3 linked regions of the Homo sapiens genome follow. The protein of the gene in region 1 interacts with the protein of each later gene in a pairwise test. Each region holds a gene or a part of one and is shown on either strand. Other genes may lie near its edges. The genes, in order: ZNF746, FES and FAM118B.

Evidence for each region.
Region 2: the proteins of ZNF746 (region 1) and FES interact in a two-hybrid assay, tested with the Homo sapiens proteins (one large-scale study listed by BioGRID and IntAct).
Region 3: the proteins of ZNF746 (region 1) and FAM118B interact in a two-hybrid assay, tested with the Homo sapiens proteins (one large-scale study listed by BioGRID and IntAct).

What each region holds. Positions count from the first base shown.
Region 1 is NC_000007.14:149,473,706-149,477,355, forward strand, and holds part of ZNF746 (zinc finger protein 746), read right to left. Parts: intron 3,343-3,650; coding exon 3,217-3,342; intron 1,779-3,216; coding exon 679-1,778; 3' UTR 1-678.
Region 2 is NC_000015.10:90,890,931-90,894,580, forward strand, and holds part of FES (tyrosine-protein kinase Fes/Fps), read left to right. Parts: intron 1-51; coding exon 52-261; intron 262-623; coding exon 624-746; intron 747-1,127; coding exon 1,128-1,181; intron 1,182-1,776; coding exon 1,777-1,895; intron 1,896-2,169; coding exon 2,170-2,264; intron 2,265-2,360; coding exon 2,361-2,484; intron 2,485-2,723; coding exon 2,724-2,881; intron 2,882-3,005; coding exon 3,006-3,128; intron 3,129-3,650. UniProt on the Homo sapiens protein: Tyrosine-protein kinase that acts downstream of cell surface receptors and plays a role in the regulation of the actin cytoskeleton, microtubule assembly, cell attachment and cell spreading.
Region 3 is NC_000011.10:126,256,632-126,260,124, reverse strand, and holds part of FAM118B (protein FAM118B), read right to left. Parts: coding exon 3,273-3,493; coding exon of another isoform or gene 3,255-3,272; intron 1-3,254. UniProt on the Homo sapiens protein: May play a role in Cajal bodies formation.

The sequences.
Region 1 (3,650 bases):
ACACCACCAAGTGCCCTTGGGACGGGTACCACAGATGGCCCAAAATAGAGAAAAGTTGGGGCCAGCACTTTTGGGGGGCCTTTTCAGGAGAGGCAAGCTGGGAAATGCAACCGCTACTCCCGGAGGGGTCCTTCCTGCTGCACTGAGGTGTGCTCCAAGGGACCCAATGGCCCTCACTGCCCAGGGGCTTGGTGCGCTAGGCCCACTCAGCCCAACTGGGCAGAGCAGGGGCACACACAGGACCCCATCCCCAGGAGTCAGTGGGCCAGGGGTCCCCAACTGGCCAACCTTCCAACACACTATCAGACTCAGTGAGATAGTGACAGAAATGCACGCCCTGAAAACCAAAAGTACCTACAAAATTTAAATAGCCCTATTACTATTTTCCAGCTTTTTCCTCAAGAATTAAAAAAAAACAAAAAACAAAAAACAAAACAGGTTTGCAATTAAATTACTTAAAATTCTACGGCGCTCCCATTTCACAGAGAATTCTACTTGGTTTAGAGGTGGCAGCTGTCCTGGTGGATAGTTTCTCTTTCTCCAGTGATCATCAGTTCAGCAACTTGGACATTTGGTTCTCCCCGTCCCGCGTCTGCCTGAAGCTTCCACGCCGCCCTGCTGCCTGCACACGGGGCTTTTTACACGTGCGGCCGGCAGGGGCTATGGGGCTGGAGGCGCTCACATGTCCCCGCCATCGGTGGGTCCCAGGACGCTGAGGCCACAAGTCCAGTCGGTCACAAGGTCTGTGGAGGCCAAAGGTCCTTTGGAGGCGGGGCTCTTGAAGGGATCAGGAGGTGCGGGCGGCGTCGGGAGTGGCTGGCCTCGGGCCGGGGTCTTGGCGCCCGCTGCATGGTTGCGCTGGTGCTTGCGGAGGTGGTCCTTGCGGATGAAGCTTTTGCCGCAGACGGTGCAGGTGAAGGGCCGCACGCCCGTGTGCGTTCGGTAGTGGTCGATGAGCTTGGAGCGTTCGGTGAAGCGCTTCTCACACTCGGTGCAGGGGAAGGGCCGCTCGCCGGTGTGCAGCATGCGATGGCGGATGAGGTGCGCGGGGCGCGTGAAGCAACGGCCGCACTCCCCACACCGAAGGGCGCTGCCATCCCGTGCGCTGCCCCCACCGCTGCCGCCACCGCCGCCGCCACTGCCGCTGCCGCCACCGCCTGTGCCCGGGCCCGACCCGTCGGGCGCCCCACAGCTGCGCTGGTGCGCGCTCAGGCTGACTTGCAGCTGGAAGCTCTTCCCACACGTGGCGCAGGTGAAGGGCCGGCCCCCGGGGGGCGCCGCGGGGTGCTTCTTCAGCCCTGGCTTGTGGCCAAAGCCTTTGGTCCGGCCAGGGTATTTACAGGGTTCGTTGAATGGCCTTGGGGCCTGGCTGGGGTCCAAGATGGCCTCTCCGTTGTCCGGGGAGGAGTAAGGAAGCCCCTCGGGCCCCGTCCTCGGGTTCAGGCCCACTGGCGGTTTACACCGGAAATTCCAGCCCCACCGGACCCCTCCGAAGAGCCAGTCCCCAGGAGGGGTCTCCTCCTGGGCCACAGCAGGACTGAGCTCACCCATGTCCCTCTCAGGCCGGGCGGGCTCTCGCAGCCCCAGCACAGGGTCCTGGCTGGGGAAGGAGCTGCCCTGGCTTTCCCAGGCTCCTTCCTGGGCAGGACTAGGGAAGAACCGTGTGGCTTGGCCTGGTCCAAACAGGGTCCCGTGAGCCTCTAGGTCAGTAGGATGTACGGGTGTGGCCACCACCTCCTCTTCCTGGACTTCTGTTTTTATTACAATTTTTACATCTGCTGAGAAAGACAGAAAGACAGATACTGACCTGTCCCTTAACTGCTGAGCGAGCCACGATCTGCCACCATCACCTGCTCAGCAGCTGCCTGGCCAGACAAACTCCACCCAGGCCCTCGTGGCTGAGCCCAGAGGGCAGCTCAGCAGAGCAGCCTGGTGGCTGTGAGGCTGCCTCCCCCTCGAGGACACCAGTGTTCTGGCACCTTCACCACAGGACAAGCCACCATATCTGCTCCCCAGGCTCCATTTTTCAGTTTGGCTGTTAAGGCTAAGCATGAATTGATCCTCAGAAAGGAATTCGAACTGCTGCAGGCACTGTGCCCCACCACAGTGCAGGGAATGGGGGTTCAGACAGCTCGGCCACACACCAGCTGTGGGCTGCAGGCAGTTTCTAACCCACAGCTCATCTGTGAATGCCCACTTCACAGGTGTGAGGATTAAACCAGACAACATGTCTGAAAGCACCTTAGTGAGCTATTTGACATGCAGCAGCATTCAATAAATGGACCCACCAGCTAATGATAAAAATATTAGTGAATAAGAATGTGTTTGGCCAGGCGCGGTGGCTCACGCCTATAATCCCAGCACTTTGGGAGGCCAAGGCGGGGGGATCATGAGGTCAGGAGATTGAGACCATCCTGGCTAACATGGTGAAACGCCGTCTCTACTAAAAATACGAAAAATTAGCTGGGCGTGGTGGCGGGCACCTGTAGTCCCAGCTACTTGGGAGGCTGAGCAGGAGAATGGCGTGAACCCGGAAGGCGGAGCGTGCAGTGAGCAGAGATCGCCCCACTGCACTCCAAGCCTGGGGGACAGAGTGAGACTCCGCCTCAAAAAAAAAAAAAAAAAAAAAAAAAAAAAAGAATGTGTTTGATTTTATATAAGCGTACTTCAACTTCACATTCTGAGGTTTCACATCAGGGATCTTGGCTATTAGCACGTTTTTTGGGTGCTAAAATATGACGTTATTATAGTAACAGGTGACTGGTCTTCAAAACAGAAGTAAACAGAAAGCTAACAGATAAATTTGGTGGTGGTTCTTCTGAAATCGGCCTTCAGACACCTGTCTTTGGTAGTACCAATATCTAAGAAGTGGTTTCAGTTCAATTTTGTTTTCCTCCATGCCAGAGAGAAGCCACAGTTTCCTAAGCTGGGGAGGAGGTATATCCTTCAAGAGATAGGCTTGTTAGAATAGACCACTTAACACCATATGAAAAAGCAACAGACTGAAACATGGATGTCCTCAAGAAGGGCTGCTGACACCTATGATTTGGCAAGGAGATAAATAACAGAATGTGCAAAGGGTCATAAGAGTGCAGACACCCTAATGTCTGTTGGCTGGAAGGTCAGAGCAGTTCACCAGTGAAAATGGGATGCCTGGACCGAGGTACTCCCCACAGGCAAGCATGGCCCTTCCCTTCCTCCTCTCGCCACCTGTACCTTCCGTGGAGGCTGCTGTGTTGAGCTTCAGGGTCCCGTCCGAGCATGCTGAAGAGGGATGGTGGGGAGGGAGATCCGTTTGCCAGGAGGTGGGCGGGATGGTGGTGGAAAAGTTGGAATGGACACCTGCGGTAAGGGGAGAGCAGAGCCGGTGGGTTAGGGGACGGACGGGGAGGACAGAAGACTGTTGGGGAGGAGAGCAGGCTAAACTCTGAGGTCCCCCCACTGGGGGCTTTTCTGAGTGGGCACGAGGACCCAACCTCTCTGAACCCAGTGTCTTTTGTCCCCCTTTCTGAGGCACTGGGAAGCTCAGACATCATCAGTATGTTTCCCACGGGCCCCTCTCGAATAGAGGCAGCCAGTGACTTCAATGCCCAATGCTGGGGCAAGAGAAGCGGCCTCACGGTGATATAGGGGCCACTGGAACAGGGCCA
Region 2 (3,650 bases), on another chromosome or scaffold:
CCTCTTCAACAAGGTGGTTAAGTGACTCCTCCTCGATCCTCCCTTGCCCAGCTCCCTCCACCGCTGCAGCTCATTCCGGAGGTGCAGAAGCCCCTGCATGAGCAGCTGTGGTACCACGGGGCCATCCCGAGGGCAGAGGTGGCTGAGCTGCTGGTGCACTCTGGGGACTTCCTGGTGCGGGAGAGCCAGGGCAAGCAGGAGTACGTGCTGTCGGTGCTGTGGGATGGTCTGCCCCGGCACTTCATCATCCAGTCCTTGGATGTGAGTGGGGCTGGGACCCGAGCCTTCCAGGCCTCACTCTTCCCCTCCCTTCCCTTCCCCAAGGGAAATGGCCTTTCAGGGTAGGGGGTAGCTGCCAGGTCTTGGATGCCTCCCTAGCAGGGCTGGCTGGAAGGGGCCACAGAGACCACCCTGTCCCTGCAACAAAATAGAGGCTTAAGTGTGAGTCCTCCCCTGGTGGGGCAGCAGGATGTCATGTGCCATCAGATGGCATCTTTTCTGGAGGTCTCTCTGCCCCTGGTCCTGGGCAGGCCCTTTCTCCCCTGCTGCTCTCCCTTTCCCCCTCCCAGGGCTCACGCCCCCTCAGAATGGAGGCTGCTGACCCCGGGTCCCCTGCCCTGCAGAACCTGTACCGACTGGAAGGGGAAGGCTTTCCTAGCATTCCTTTGCTCATCGACCACCTACTGAGCACCCAGCAGCCCCTCACCAAGAAGAGTGGTGTTGTCCTGCACAGGGCTGTGCCCAAGGTGAGCCTGCACCCAGCCTGGCCCATGCCACCTGTGGCAGGGCTTGGGGAGTGTGGGTCAGGCCCACCCAGCGTCTGAGCAGAAAGGGCTTTCCAGGCCCTCCGTCTACATACAAGATGCAGAGTGAGTGACCCTCAGGGCCAGCCTTGCTCTAGGTTTGGAATGTCAGGGCCACTCCTATGCCATGGGCTGTACACACCAGGTTGGTGCTTACCTGGTCAGGGCACCTGCCTGGACCCCGTAGTCATCTCAGTGTGCTCCCCACGTGGTCCCACCCCTGGTCACATATGGAGGCGCCAAAAAATGGAGGACACAGCCCTTCTAAGGGCCCAGCACCCCTTTTCTTCAGACTTCTGATCCCCTGTCTCCTCTCTTCCCCAGGACAAGTGGGTGCTGAACCATGAGGACCTGGTGTTGGGTGAGCAGATTGGACGGGTGAGTGCGCCTCTGCTGGCCTCCTTGTCGCTGGCGACTTCTCCTGAGTCGCGCCTGGGCCCCCTGCCCTACCACCCAGAGACCTCCCTGCCCCATCTGATTCCCCACTTGTACCCCGACTCCCTGCCCAGCCCCCACCACACACCATCCTCCAGGAAACGGGACAGTACCTACCCTGAAAACTCCCAGCAGACAGCTCTGCCAGCACCCTGACCTCATCACCCCCACCCAGGCCGCCCCCATCGAGCTCTTGTGTGCACGCAGGGAGACACCCTGTTACTGTAAGCCATAAGATACCTGTTTAGGGAAGAAGTCACTGTCCTAAAAATCAGAATGCTTTTCAAACCCAAGGGAGAGTGATTTTTGGATTTCCATGTCACTTCTCTCAGGAAGGGTGGCACATCGGAGGCAACTTTCCCTGCCTGCCCCATGTGCTCTCTAGGTTCCCCAGCGAGGGTCAAACTCCCAGAGAGCCTGGGTGAGGGGTCCGAACACGGGGGCCCCTCACCCAGGGGTAGGAAGCAGAATGGGTAGGAAGCGGAGAAGAGAACTGCGGGACTGGGAAGGCCGTGGTAGGAGCCCAAGACCGTTTCAGGGGAACTTTGGCGAAGTGTTCAGCGGACGCCTGCGAGCCGACAACACCCTGGTGGCGGTGAAGTCTTGTCGAGAGACGCTCCCACCTGACCTCAAGGCCAAGTTTCTACAGGAAGCGAGGTGGGTGATAAACTAATGATCACCACGGGTCCCGCATACACAGAGGTTACACTGCATGGCACAGTGTGAAGTGCTTGACCACCGTGGTGGTGTTTAGTCCTCGAGGCCCCCCATTGCGGGTAGTACCCCCTTATAGTGCCGAAGGGTAGAGGCTGCCCCAGGTCACACGTCCGGGTCTGCTGGCCTTGGAGGCCAAGCTCTTCTCCCATCATCCCTGGGGGGCCCTGGGGAGGCGGGCCTGGCCACGTAGATCCTGAGCAGCAGTGCCCTCCAGGATCCTGAAGCAGTACAGCCACCCCAACATCGTGCGTCTCATTGGTGTCTGCACCCAGAAGCAGCCCATCTACATCGTCATGGAGCTTGTGCAGGGTGAGCGCGGGGCGCTGAGCTCCAGGTAGGGCGCGCAGCCTGGTCAGGTGGCAGCCTTACCTCAGGAGGCTCAGCAGGGGTCCTCCCCACCTGCAGGGGGCGACTTCCTGACCTTCCTCCGCACGGAGGGGGCCCGCCTGCGGGTGAAGACTCTGCTGCAGATGGTGGGGGATGCAGCTGCTGGCATGGAGTACCTGGAGAGCAAGTGCTGCATCCACCGGTGAGTGGGCGGTGGCCACGGGCCCTGCCAACACCCCCGACCAGAGTCAAGAGGTACCTATACCCCTAGGGCCCCCCGCTGGACCATCAGGCATCAGCTCCAGAGGGGGAGTTGGCCTCTGTGGTAGACAGGGGTGCCCAGGGCCGGGAGCAGCTTTTGTCCTTGGCTTTCCTAGAGTGTTCAGCCAGGGCTGGGCAGGCGACTGTTGGCCAAATGAGCCCCTGCCCTGTCTCACCCAGGGACCTGGCTGCTCGGAACTGCCTGGTGACAGAGAAGAATGTCCTGAAGATCAGTGACTTTGGGATGTCCCGAGAGGAAGCCGATGGGGTCTATGCAGCCTCAGGGGGCCTCAGACAAGTCCCCGTGAAGTGGACCGCACCTGAGGCCCTTAACTACGGTACCTAGTCCCTGTCTACCCTGGACTCCATGGCCAGAGGCCAGGCCTGGGTCCTGCCGGCTGCCTCGCCCTGGCCCCAGGGAGGGTGCACTCACGCTGCCTCACCTCCTCGCCTCCTCTGCAGGCCGCTACTCCTCCGAAAGCGACGTGTGGAGCTTTGGCATCTTGCTCTGGGAGACCTTCAGCCTGGGGGCCTCCCCCTATCCCAACCTCAGCAATCAGCAGACACGGGAGTTTGTGGAGAAGGGTAAGCACCCTGTGATGACAGCAGCCTCAGGCTGCACCCTCTTCCAGATGCTCCAGCCGGACTCTTCTAACTCCCTTAATGCCAACCTTCCCACCAGGCAGAATAAGAATAACCTGGCCAGTTGCTCACGCCTGTCATCCCAGCACTTTGGGAGGCTGAGCTGGGTGGATCACTTGAGCCCAGGAGTTCAAGATCAGCTTGGACAACACAGTGAAACTCCATCTGTACAAAAAATACAAAAATAGACTGGGCACGGTGGCTCACACCTGTAATCCCAGCACTTTGGGAGGCCGAGGCAGGTGGATCACCTGTGGTCAGGAGTTTGAGACCAGCCAGACCAACATGGTGAAACCCCATCTCTACTAAAAATACAAAAATTAGCCAGGCATGGTGGCACGTGCCTGTAATCCCAGCTACTTGGGAGGCTGAGGTGGGAGAATTGCTTGAACCCAGGAGGCGGAGGCTGCAGTGAGCCGAGATTGTGCCACTGCACTCCAGCCTGGGCGACAAGAGTGAAACTCC
Region 3 (3,493 bases), on another chromosome or scaffold:
GGGAGGTCAAGGCTGTGGTGAGCCATGACTGTGCCATTGTACTGCAGCCTGGGTGAAAAAGCAAGACCCTGTATCAAAAATAGTAATAATAATAAAATAAAAATAAAGCTGGCACAGTGGCTCACGCCTGTAATCCCAGCACTTTGGGAGGCTGAGGTGGGTGGATCACGAGGTCAGGAGATCGAGACCATCCTGGCTAACACAGTGAAACGCTGTATCTACTAAAAATACAAAAAATTAGCCGGGTGTGGTGGCGGGCGCCTTTAGTCCCAGCTACTCGGGAGACTGAGGCAGGAGAATGGCGTGAACCCAGGAGGCAGAGCTTGCAGTGAGCTGAGATTGCGCCACTGCACTCTAGCCTGGGTGACAGAGAGAAACTCCATCTCAAATCAATAAATAGGCCCGGGCATGGTGGCTCACGCCTGTAATCCCAGCACTTTGGGAGGCCAGGGCGGGTGGATCATGAGGTCAGGAGACCGAGACCATCCTGGCCAACATGGTGAAACCCCATCTCTACTAAAAATACAAAAAATTAGCCGGGCATGGTGGTGGGCGCCTATAGTTCCAGCCACTCAGGAGGCTGAGGCAGGAGAATCACTTGAACCCAGGAGGCGGGGGTTGCAGTGAGCCGAGATTGTGCCACTGCACTCCAGCCTGGCGTCAGAGCGAGACTCCATCTCAAAAAAAAAAAAAAAAAAAGTACCACAACGACTGCTTGTATGGTAATGGATTATAAGAATTATTTTTCTTTTTCCCACTGCTTGATTTTTCCAAAATATGTGTAACTACATACTATAGAATCCTTTGAAGACAATTAATTTCCACTATGCAAAAGTGAGTATACAGCACAATGCCAGGCACATAGCAAAGGTTCAGTGTTAAAAAACAAAATAACAGCAAAAGACCTGTAACCTCTCATTAGTCTATATCTACAGAGACTCAAAACATTATGCAAGGGTGAAAGATAAGGTTGACTCGTTTCAAAATGAAATGATGTTTTAACCTGAAACTGCTCTACTACATTTCACATGACAAACTCAGCTGACCATTCCCATAAAGCACTCTGGCCATACTGAAAATCCTTGATTTTGTTTAAAGATACAGAACACCTTAATGATGGGTAACTTCGGGGAAAGCTACTCTGGTAGGAAGCCTACACAGCTAATAAAAGAATTTGTGCCATTCCACAATAGCAGTTAAGGTTCCTTAGAGCAATCTTAGTGCACTAAGGAACCTTACTGCTTCTTTGTTATGTAATGCAACAGTCTAAAGACATATTTATTTTTTGCTAAGATTTAGTGCAACAGAAACAGTTATGCAGACGGATTTTGCTGTTTTAAACTTTAGCATCTTTCCTCAGCATATAGATCAAAAGAAATATGTAGAACTTGGATATGTATGTCTTGTTAATGAAAACAACATGTGCAACAGAAAAGCCTTCTCAAAGTCTCAAGTGTGGGCAAACAACAGCAGGAGAGTCTAGAACACTGCAGGACACCAGAAAAACTCATTTCCAACAAAGAATAGTAAATAGTTTTCACAAATGAGACTTGTTCATGTGGTGATGGCTTTTAAAAGTCTGGTTCCATCAAAGCATAGCCATGGAAGAAGCTGTGTAATTTTTCATTACAGGAGAATTCTACTTGAAGCCATCTGATTCAGTTAAGAAATCTGGGGATGATTTGATTTAGGAAAACTGCTTTATGTTTATTAAATTACCTGTATGTTATTTATTTTAGAAACAGCGTCTTGCTTTATTGCTCAGACTGTAGGGCAGTGATGCAATCATAGCTCACTGCAGACTCCAACTCCTGGGCTCAAGTGATCCTCCTGCCTCAACCTCCCAAGCAGCTGGACTACAGGTGTGTGCCACCACACCTGGCTAATTTTTTGCAGAGACAGGTTCTCACTATGTTGCTCACACTCATCTTGAACTCCTGGCCTCAAGTGATCCTCCCACCTGGGCCTCCCACAGTGTTGGGATTACAGGACAAATTACCTGTACTTTTGCCCTCCTAAGATGCATTCAGGTTGACAATGAAAATACTTACATAAGTTTTCAGGAAATATTCTGTGCACAACAGCCAAGTTTTTTTGGAATTAGATGGATGAGTCACACTAGCCATACTCTGGAGCCTGGCAATGTGAGGTTTTGAAAAAGCATTCTTCAGTTTAGCTGATACCAAAAATGTTTGTGTTTTGTGCGGTTACTGGGAATTTGCCTGCAGCCACTAATCAGCTGAATCTTTAATCACCATTTTGCTCTTTATTGTTAGAATGTGGAGGTAAAATATCAAGTGTATGATACCCCTATCCTCTGACTTGAATATCACCATTATCCGTTTCCAAATAGCATTTCTAAAAGTAAGTTTTCTGTTTGTAAATATAATACATAATCATCATAGAAAATGCCAATACAGAAACCAAAAAATCAACACTTTAAATCCTACTAAAGATAGCCACTTAATTTAGTAAACATTCCAGATACATTTCTACACGCACCAAAAAAAAAAAAAAAATGTACAATTCTATATGAATATAGCTGACCATGGTATTTACAACCTGCTTTTTCTTCCTTTACTCATATGTCTCTAACTTTTTTTTTTATGGCAATGAAAACACTTTCCCTTCTATGGTTTCATTGTATTTCATCAATTAAATAAATATTGGCATATCTGTAGAATCTCCACCAATTTTAGGATCCTTCCAATTTTTTGCCACTACATTCAATGGAAATTACATTCCCACGCATGCATCTTTGTACAATTGTGTGATTGTGCAATCATCCAATTATCTCCTTATGAGAAACTTCTAGGATAAATTGTTTTGATGGGATTTCTAGGTCAAAGATTTGAAAATTTTTGTTACATCTTCTAATTTATGGTCATAAAAGTTGTACTAACTTTACCTTTCCACAAATACTCCATGAATAAATTTATTTTCTCACAGCCTTAGCCAAAATTGGGTGATCTTTCTTCGCTATTTTGTAATCTAAATTCAAACTGCATTTCATTGATAACTAGTGAGGCTGAACATCTGTTTTCTTCATTCTTCCTATGTCTATATTGAACTGCTCAAGTATTCCTTTTTGTCTGTCTTCCCATAATCCAAGTGGCACTTTAGTCTAACCTGAAGACTGTGGCCTCCTTTACAATTTGGTCAGTCATTACATTCCTCATCTTGGCAACTATTTTGCCCATCACATCACAAATACACAAAAGGCTGAAGAGCTGTTGTTCTCTGATTCCCCTCAGCTTCAAAATGCATCTTACCTGATGTACCCCTTGTGGAGATCTCACATGTCAGTCGCTTGAAATATTCTGGAAGATCGGCATAGTCATCTCCATAGGAGATGACTTTAATCCCCTTGTCCAGCATGTTTTCTCGAAGCTTTTTGAACTCATCTACGTCTCCTCTCCGAACCAGCATGAAATGTTCTAGGTCAGATTTATGCTTGACAGCCTCCAAGAAAAGGGCCTGGAAAGTGGTGTCA